Linked DNA regions of Homo sapiens: region 2 is linked to region 1. The links come from fine-mapping of genetic effects on gene expression. Tissue or cell type: skeletal muscle. Region 1 holds a variant in brackets; the other region holds the start of a gene. All regions are shown on one strand. Distances are between the middles of the regions.

Region 1 (4,158 bases):
CAAGTGATCCACCTGCCTCAGCCTCCCACAGTGCTGGGATTATAGGTGTAAGCCACCGTGCCAGGCCTCCTTACCTCCCTTATCATTCTCTTCAACTCTCTTAGTCTCTGTCTCTCTTGCTCTTTTCCTTTCTGAGTGTGAGTCTCTCAAGTTTCCCCTTCTCTTTCTGTTTCGGTGTCTCTCAGTCTCCATCCCTTTCCCCACCCCCAAGCCACTTTTCTCTATCTCTTTTTCTTTCTTTGAGATGGGGTCTCACTATGTTGCCCAGGCTGGTCTCAAACTCCTGGGCTCAGGCAATCTTCCCACCATGGCCTCCCAAAGCACGGGGATTACCGGCATGAGCCATTGCGCCTGGCCCCTACCTCTTTTTCTTCCACCATCTCTTTATCTCTCCAGTACTCCCTCTCTCCTTGGATATATATACCTGCTAACTACGGTGTCTCATCTCTCTCTGTCTGCCTTGTCTGCCCTCTCAGTGTCTCCAAGTGACTCTACACACACATCTCTCTCTTTCCTTCTCACTCTCTCTCCCCATCACCCTTGGGAGCCCAGCCCACCTACCGAAACCGCTCCTGGCCAGCCGTGTCCCAAATCTGTAGCTTCACAGTCTTCCCACCCACGTTGACCACCCGGGATCCAAACTCCACGCCGATTGTGTGGTTGGAGTCCTGTTTGACTGGGAGTAGGAGGAACAGAAGGGGCAGTACAGGGAGAGAGGAGACAGCTCAGAGGATCCCCCATCCTCCAAGGCCCTCTCAGTCTCTACAAACCCATTCTCCTTGCTGGAGTGACTTGAGGTCAAGGAGAACCTAGTAAAGGACATACGACAAAGCAAGGACCAAAAAGCCAGCACTGGACTTGTACCTATGGCCAGCCCTGCCCTCCCCACCGGCTGCCCACCAGCCCACACCATGCGCATAAACACAGCTCAGGGTTCCCAGGACCACTGCGGGAAACTCACACTTATTCTCAATGAACTGATGAAGGAGACATGATTTGCCAGTTCCTGCACTGCCAATCACCAGGAATTTGAAGAGGAAGTCTGACCAGATGGAGCCAAAATCAGGGATACCCACAGGGAGAGAAAGATACAGGGAAAAAAGATGGATTCCAATCCAATCTCTCTCTCTAACCATCACAGTTAGAGGGAGAGAAACAGACATAGGCAGAAACAAACCAATAGGTAACAGTAACAGATAACTCTTATGTAGTACTTGCCATGTGCCAGGCACATTCTATATATTTTTTTTCAACTTTTATTTTAGATTCAGGGAGTACATGTGCAGGGGTTTTTTTGTCGTTGTTTTTGTTTTTTTGAGACAGAGTTTCACTTTTCGTTGCCCAGGCTGGAGTGCAATGGCGCGATCTCGGCTCACCGCAACCTCCACCTCCCAGGTTCAAGCAATTCTCCTGCCTCAGCCTCCCGAGTAGCTGGGATTACAGGCATGCGCCACCACACTCAGCTAATTCTGTATTTTTAGTAGAGACGGGGTTTCTCCATGTTGGTCAGGCTGGTCTCAAACTCCCGACCTCAGGTGATCCGCCTGCCTCAGCCTCCCAAAGTGCTGGGATTACAGGCATGAGCCACCGC[G/A]CCCAGCCCACATGTGCAGGTTTGTTACATGGGTCAATTGTGTGTTGTTGTGGGCCAGGAACAGTTCTAAAGGTCTTTACTCACATCAACAGCTCACATCATCCTCAGGAAAACTCTATGAGGGAGGTAGACTAAAAATTATTCCCATTTTCCGGATGAGGTAACAGGCCAGAAAGGTTAACTGACTTGCCCAAAGTGACACAGCTGGGCAGAAGTGAGATTCAAACCTAGGCCAAGGGCTCCAGAGTCCCAGATCTTAGCTATTTTGTCGCTAAAGTCTCTTGAAAGCTATTTAAACAAGGACTACGATATAGCCCTTGTTCCTCTTCACCTCCTACCACCCTCTGACTCATTCACTCCACTATAGCTCCTGACCTTCAGTCTATTCCCTGAAAATGACAAGCTGGTTCTCACCTCAGGGTCTTTGCACTCTTCTCCCTTCTCTTCTATATTTGTTGAGTGAATGCGGCTCCCTCTGACTCCTAAACCTGCACTTCCCCTGCCTCCAATCACCACCTCCTATGGTGCATCCCTACTGATTTTCCACTTCCCGACCTCTCCTTCCCTCCCTCTGCCCAGAACCCGGCTCCATTCTCATGCATAAGTCCCACCCTTTGCCACTAAGTCCTGCCCCTAACTCAAGGACAGCCCATCCCCAAACCCATTCCAGAGCTCTCTCCAGCCAGATCAGCCCCAGGGTCCCGAGCTTCCATTCAGTGTTCCCTCTAGCCCATAAGCCCGACTCCTGCCATTCATGCAGTCAGCCCCGCCCCTTCACTCAGGCTCCGCCCAGATCCATTAAGGCCCACCTCTTCCCTCAGGGCCTCCCTGAACCCCTCAGGACCAGCTCCCTCAAATCCCGCCCCAGATCTATTTAACCCACGCACCAGACCCTCAGGCTCCACCTAAATCGATTAAGCTCAGCCTCAGACCCACTAAACCCCTCCCAGCATCCACTTAGGTCCTGCCTCCATCACACCAGACCCCGCCCCCTGATCTACAAAGCCCCGCCCATTCCCACAGGCCGCATCCTCCCTGGGCCCAGACCCAGGACCCCAGCTTCGTCCACCACCCTCACCGTAGGTCTCAGCCATGACTCGGTCGCGGCCGCTGAGGGCCGCAATATGGCGCCGCGGCCGCGCCTGCTCCTCGGCTGGCAGCCGCTCCACTCCGGCTACAGCCCCGGCTCCTTCCTACTCCCCGGGCCCGGCACCGCCACTTCCGCCTCCGCCCCCCTCCGGCGCGACCCGCTCCGGCAGCTGGATACCAGGCGACGCTTTCCGAAGGGCGGGATTGGCGGACTCGCGGGCAGGGGGCGGGACAAGAGGCGCGGATTGGTGGCGTGAGAAGGACCAAGCCCAAAGGGGCGGGGCCGAGCCCAGCGATTGGCTGAGCAAGTGGGAAGGGACGTGCAGAGCTGCTTAGCTGAGCCGAGGAACGGATTTAGTCTGGAGTACGGGGGGCAGAGTCGAGTCTCCGGATTGGATCGGAGCGGACTTGGGGGAGGGGATACAAATGCAAAGAAGGGGGCACGGGCAGGATTGACAGAAAGAGGCTGGAAGAGGAGCTGATCTTGAGCTGGCGGGAGCGATTACTGTTCTCAAAGGCGAAAAGGAGGAAAACTGGGCAGATAGGCGCAGGTTACTTCCCACCTCCCTTTCCAGATAATCTTCCAAGAAAACCTTTACTGTGCGATTTATATCCTCCGCGTAGTCCGATTGGCTCCCTCCCACTGGTCTAGAGAGGACACTACAATCCCCTAGTTGGGCTGCTTAGGTTTTCCTTTGCTTGTGTCCGAAACCTAAGCTTAGGAGCGCTCCTACTGCACAGGGCTTTCATCAGTGAAACTCTGCCTAGCAACCACTGACGTTACCACAGGCAGCGGGTTAATTGGTTAGATTCAGCAACCTAGAGAAACATTTCATTTGTACAGTCCCCACCCTACCCTACCCCACCCCAAAGACCACGGAGACGAGCCGTTTGCACTGGGCTGATTGTATTTGCATAAAGCCAAGGAGGGGAAACGGCAGGGCCAGCGGTAGGCTGAGCTCACTGGCAGTAGAAATCCCATTTCTGAAAAAGAGAAAGGGGAAACAGTGGAAAGAAAACCAGCGGTCACACCACAAAGGATCTAGTGGTTTTAGCAAAGGCTGCAGCTGCAGGGCCCAGGTCTGGCCACACAAGTGCTATGCAAATTAGCCTAGAGCCCTCTAATCTTTGCACCTCCCAACTGGACCCATTTTACTGGTGAGAAAATTGAGGCAGGGAAAGAATTTCTCCCAGCGCACATACCTAGGCTGCCAGGGAGCCAAGTGTGGGAGCATTTTTGCCCATCCCCACAACCTAAGGGTCCTCCCCCCACATTTCTTGCCAGCCCCCATGACACTCACGTCTGTCTTCACATCGACTTTGCCAGGTTTCAGGGTCTGGTCCTCTCGGACAATGCTACTGGGGAAATAGCCCAGGCGAGCAGCCAGATCTCCATAGTAATCTCCCTGAACCTGGGGAAGAGGAGTTAAAAGCTAGGGTCTGGGAAGATGGCAAGCTTGTGCCTGCTGAAGGCCTTT
Region 2 (4,158 bases), 430 kb after region 1:
AATCCTCTCACCTCAGCCTCCCGAGTTGCTCAGATTTTAGGGGCGCGCCACCATGCCTGGCTAATTTTTGCATTTTTAGTAGAGATGGGGCTTCACCATGTTGTCCAGGCTGGTCTCAAACTCCTGGTCTCAGGTGATCCACCCACTTCACCTCCCAAAGTGCTTGGATTACAGGTGTGAGCCATTGCGCCAGGCCGAGATATTTTTGTCTGTATTGTTCATTGAGGTATCCCCAGTGTCTAGCAGTGTTGGGCACATATATAGTACATGCTTAAGAATTATGTGCAGAATGATTAATTTGTGTTTTCATTCCCATATTGCAGATGCAGTAACTGAGGCGCTGGGAGGTTAAGTTAGTTGCCCAAGATCATGCAGTTTTTTTTTTTTTTTTTTTTTTTGAGACGGAGTCTCGCTCTTGTTGCCCAGGCTACAGTGCAATGGCACGATCTAGGCTCACTGCAACCTCCGCCTCTCAGATTCGAACGATTCTCCTGTCTCAGCCTCCCGAGTAGCTGGGATTACAGGCATGTGCCACCATGCCTGGCTAATTTTGTATTTTTAATAGAGATGGGGTTTCTCCATGTTGGTCAGGCTGGTCTCGAACTTCCGACCTGAGGTGATCCGCCCGCCTCGGCCTCCCAAAGTGCTGGGATTACAGGCGTGAGCCACCGCGCCTGGCCTATTATTATTATTTTTTTTTGAGACGGAGTCTCGCTCTTGTTGCCCAGGCTGGAGTGCAATGGCGCGATCTCGGCTCACTGCAACCTCCACCTCCCCGGTTCAAGCCATTCTCCTGCCTCAGCCTCCCGAGTAGCTGGGATTATAGGCATGCACCACCACGCCCGGCTAATTTTGTATTTTTAGTAGAGACGGGGTTTCTCCATGTTGATCAGGCTGGTCTCGAACTCCCGACATCAGGTGATCCGCCCACCTTGGCCTCCTAAAGTGCTGGGATTACAGGCATGAGCCACCGCACCCGGCCGAGGGTGACATGGTTAATAACAATATTAGCCAAAAACACCATGTCAAGCTGAGCCTACCACAAGAATAAACTCACAGAATCGTCACACTCAGCCCTGATGTGGATGTCCCCGTGTGCATTTTGCAGATGAAGCTGGGATTGGAAAGGTGCCATAAGGCAGTCAAGGTATCCAGAGGTGTAGTGGTGGGGCTGGGATTCTGACACACCCCAGGTAATGGGCTGCAGTACCCCGTATGTTATGTGAGATGTGACACGGGGAAATGACGAAGACACGGAGGGAAGAAAAATAACTGTAAGGCTGGGTGGCTCCTTATGGGGAAAACTGGAAGCATGAGGAGTGGATGGTGACTGGTCAGAGGAACAGTGATGCCAAGGGAGGGACAAAGACACAAGGGGTAATGATGACGTAAGAGTTGCATTAGCGCGATTTAAGAAGAGCGATGGGGACAGTAGCCATGCGAAGGTGACTTGGGGGTATGATGAGGGTTTAAAGAGAAATGAGGATTTTATAAAGGAGAAATGGCAACAAAAGCAGGATGCAGGTAACATATGGCGATGACGAATTTAAAGGGAGCGATTACGACCTATGGTGGCAAAGAGGGCTTACAGGGAACGAAAGCGAGTTAAGGGCGTTGATGACAACAAGAGGAGTTGTGAGGATTTAAAGAGGGTGATGGCGACAGAAGGAGTTGTGAGGATTTAAGTGGGATGAGACAGAAGGAGAGGAATGGTGACATAAAGAGACCGAGGACGACATAAATTATAGCGTGGAAGACAACGCTATAATTATATATATTATATTCCATATATTATATTCCATATAATATATATTATATTCCATGCATTATAGCGTGGAAGACAACACGAGGAGGGTAGCCGAGGCGCCGCGCCCCCAGATCGCACAGTACCTGCACTCCACGTCTCCCACTCCGAGACCCAGCCCCACACGCACCTTCCAGGCTGTATCCCCGCCTGACGGCCCCTCCTAGCCGCGCGCAGGCGCACTACGGCTAGACTGCAGGCCGGCGGGGGCCAGGCATGCGCCTTTCTCATTGGCCGCGCCGCTTGCTAGCTTCGGGCGGAGGGGAGCGCCGGGCCGACGGTGGGCGGTCACGTGACGGTTACGACTGCACTCTCGCTGGTGTCGGTGGGCGGTCACGTGATGGTTATGGCCGCACTCTCGCTGGTGGCGGCCTGTTGGGGTAGAGCGGCCGCGGACGAGTCAGTTCAGCTTCCGGCGGTGAGAGGATGCTTCCGGGGCGGGCAGCCCGGGCCGGGGGAGGAGTGTCTGACAGTTGGCGCCGCCGGGAGGGAGGGCGGGCGGCGCGAGTGGGCGCGGGCCCGGTGGGCCAGGTGAGGCGCGGGCCGGGGGTGGTGGGACTGGGCCGGTTGCGGTAGGGACGGGTGGCGTCCGGGTGTCTGGACTCAGTTCGGGCTCCGTTGTACGGCTTCGGACTTACGATTTGTTTCTTTGAGCCTCAGTTTCCTCCCCTGTGGAATGGGGGTTAGAATCCGACTGTATCACCGGCTTTATAAATGGGAGTGAGAAGTCAGGTCGTGTACGTTGGATGCCTTAGCTCAGCGCCTCCGCATAACGCTCACTTCGTTACTATACTATTATTATTAGTATTGATGTTTGAGCGCTTAGTATGAAAAATTGTTGGGTTTGGAAGCCGTCGAATTTTGGTTCAAGTCCCGCTCCACTGTGCGGCAGTGGGGCCTGTGTCTTCGCTTCCTTGAACCCCGTTTTTTCTCATCTGTACAATGAGAGCAGATAGTCCCAATATCATAGGGTCGTCTTGAGGATTCTGATGAAATCTGTGTGTGTAAAGATTTTAAGCAGAGGGGCTGGCACAGTGAGAGCTCGTGGATTGGGACTATAATGATAATGATTCTGAGAGTCATTGGTGTAGCTGGGAATTCCAGGGAAGCTGGGGGAGAAAGCTCAGAGACAGCAATAGGAAAAACTTAGAATTGGAGCCGGGGAAATCGACATCCTGTCACTTACTATTTGACCAATTTTGCTGAGTCCTGAAGTACTAGTTTTTTTCTTTTTCTTGATAATGACTAGTGCATTTTTTTCCCCAGTAAGTTAATTTGAGAAGGCAAATTTGCATTGCTGTCTTCTTCTTTTTTTTTTCTTTGAGACGGAGTTTCGCTCTTGTTGCCCAGGCTGGAGTGCAATGGTGCAATTTCGTCTCACCGCAACCTCCGCTTCCTGGGTTCAAGGGATTCTCCTGCCTCAACCTTCCGAGTAGCTGGGATTACAGGCATGCGCCACCACGCCCGGCTAATTTTTTTTGTATTTTAGTAGAGACGGGGTTTCTGCATGTTGGTCAGGCTGGTCTCGAACTTCTGACTTCAGGTGATCTGCCCGCCTCTGCCTCCCAAAGTGCTGGGATTACAGGTGTGAGCCACCGTGCCCGGCGCATTGCTGTCTTCAATGGAAAACTAGCATTGCTGGCCATGAGAGGAAGGAAAAGTTCAGGTAAAATACAATGGAAACTGAACAGCCCATTACATTGTACACTGAAATGGAAAGATAATTGAAAAGGAATACTACGTATTCCCTTTGAATAGGGATACTGTTCAGAACCTGTACTGTGTGATTCCCTGTTGTCAGATCCCATGGACCCCCATTAAGTTGTCCTTATACTTGTTCCCAGCTCACACTTTGTATAAAACTAGCATTAAGTCAGTGACTGTCCCACTGTTTCCCTAGCTTACTGAAGATTTGTTTTATTTGATGCACACTTAACATCGCACTTAACCACCTGCCGTGCATCTTTGTTCTAAGGACTCTGTTTATTAACTCGTTTAATCCTTGTAACACCTTTAAGAATGGGTCCTTGGCTGGGCGTGGTGGCTCACGCCTGTAATCCTAGCACTTTGGGAGGCCGAGACGGGCGGATCACGAGGTCAGGAGATAGAGACCATCCTGGCTAACACGGTGAAACCCCGTCTCTACTAAAACTACAGAAAATTAGCCGGGCATGGTGGTGGGGGCCTGTAATCCCAGCTACTTGGGAGGCTGAGGCAGGATAATTGCTTGAACCTGGGAGGCAGAGGTTGCAGTGAGACGAGATCACGCCACTGCACTCCAGCCTGGGCGACAGAGTGGGACTTCATCTCAAAAAAAAAAAAGGGTCCTCTTTTTTTTTTTTTAAGATGGTGTT

What was found. PIP is the estimated chance that this variant, and not a neighbour inherited with it, causes the effect.
Region 2: PLD3 starts here. The variant in region 1 is fine-mapped to the expression of PLD3 in skeletal muscle (GTEx, PIP above 0.99).

The regions. Positions count from the first base shown.
Region 1 is chr19:40,776,903-40,781,060 of GRCh38, reverse strand. It overlaps MIA (MIA SH3 domain containing), which reads right to left. Exons shown (of 4, transcript NM_006533.4): 3 at 3,982-4,092; 4 at 3,571-3,664. The coding sequence ends at 3,641. It overlaps RAB4B (RAB4B, member RAS oncogene family), which reads right to left and starts at 2,814. Exons shown (of 8, transcript NM_016154.5): 1 at 2,670-2,814; 2 at 962-1,042; 3 at 562-676. The coding sequence starts at 2,685. It overlaps MIA-RAB4B (MIA-RAB4B readthrough (NMD candidate)), which reads right to left. Exons shown (of 10, transcript NR_037775.1): 3 at 3,982-4,092; 4 at 962-1,042; 5 at 562-676. RAB4B-EGLN2 (RAB4B-EGLN2 readthrough (NMD candidate)) reads right to left here and starts at 2,842. Exons shown (of 12, transcript NR_037791.1): 1 at 2,670-2,842; 2 at 962-1,042; 3 at 562-676. RefSeq lists enhancers at 1,212-1,743, 2,631-2,700 and silencers at 2,761-3,000, 3,551-3,680. The variant G/A (reference allele first, on the strand shown) is at 1,592.
Region 2 is chr19:40,346,501-40,350,658 of GRCh38, reverse strand. PLD3 (phospholipase D family member 3) reads right to left here and starts at 1,964. Exons shown (of 13, transcript NM_012268.4): 1 at 1,891-1,964. C19orf47 (chromosome 19 open reading frame 47) reads left to right here and starts at 2,262. Exons shown (of 9, transcript NM_001256441.2): 1 at 2,262-2,335. RefSeq lists an enhancer at 2,018-2,307 and a silencer at 2,298-2,387.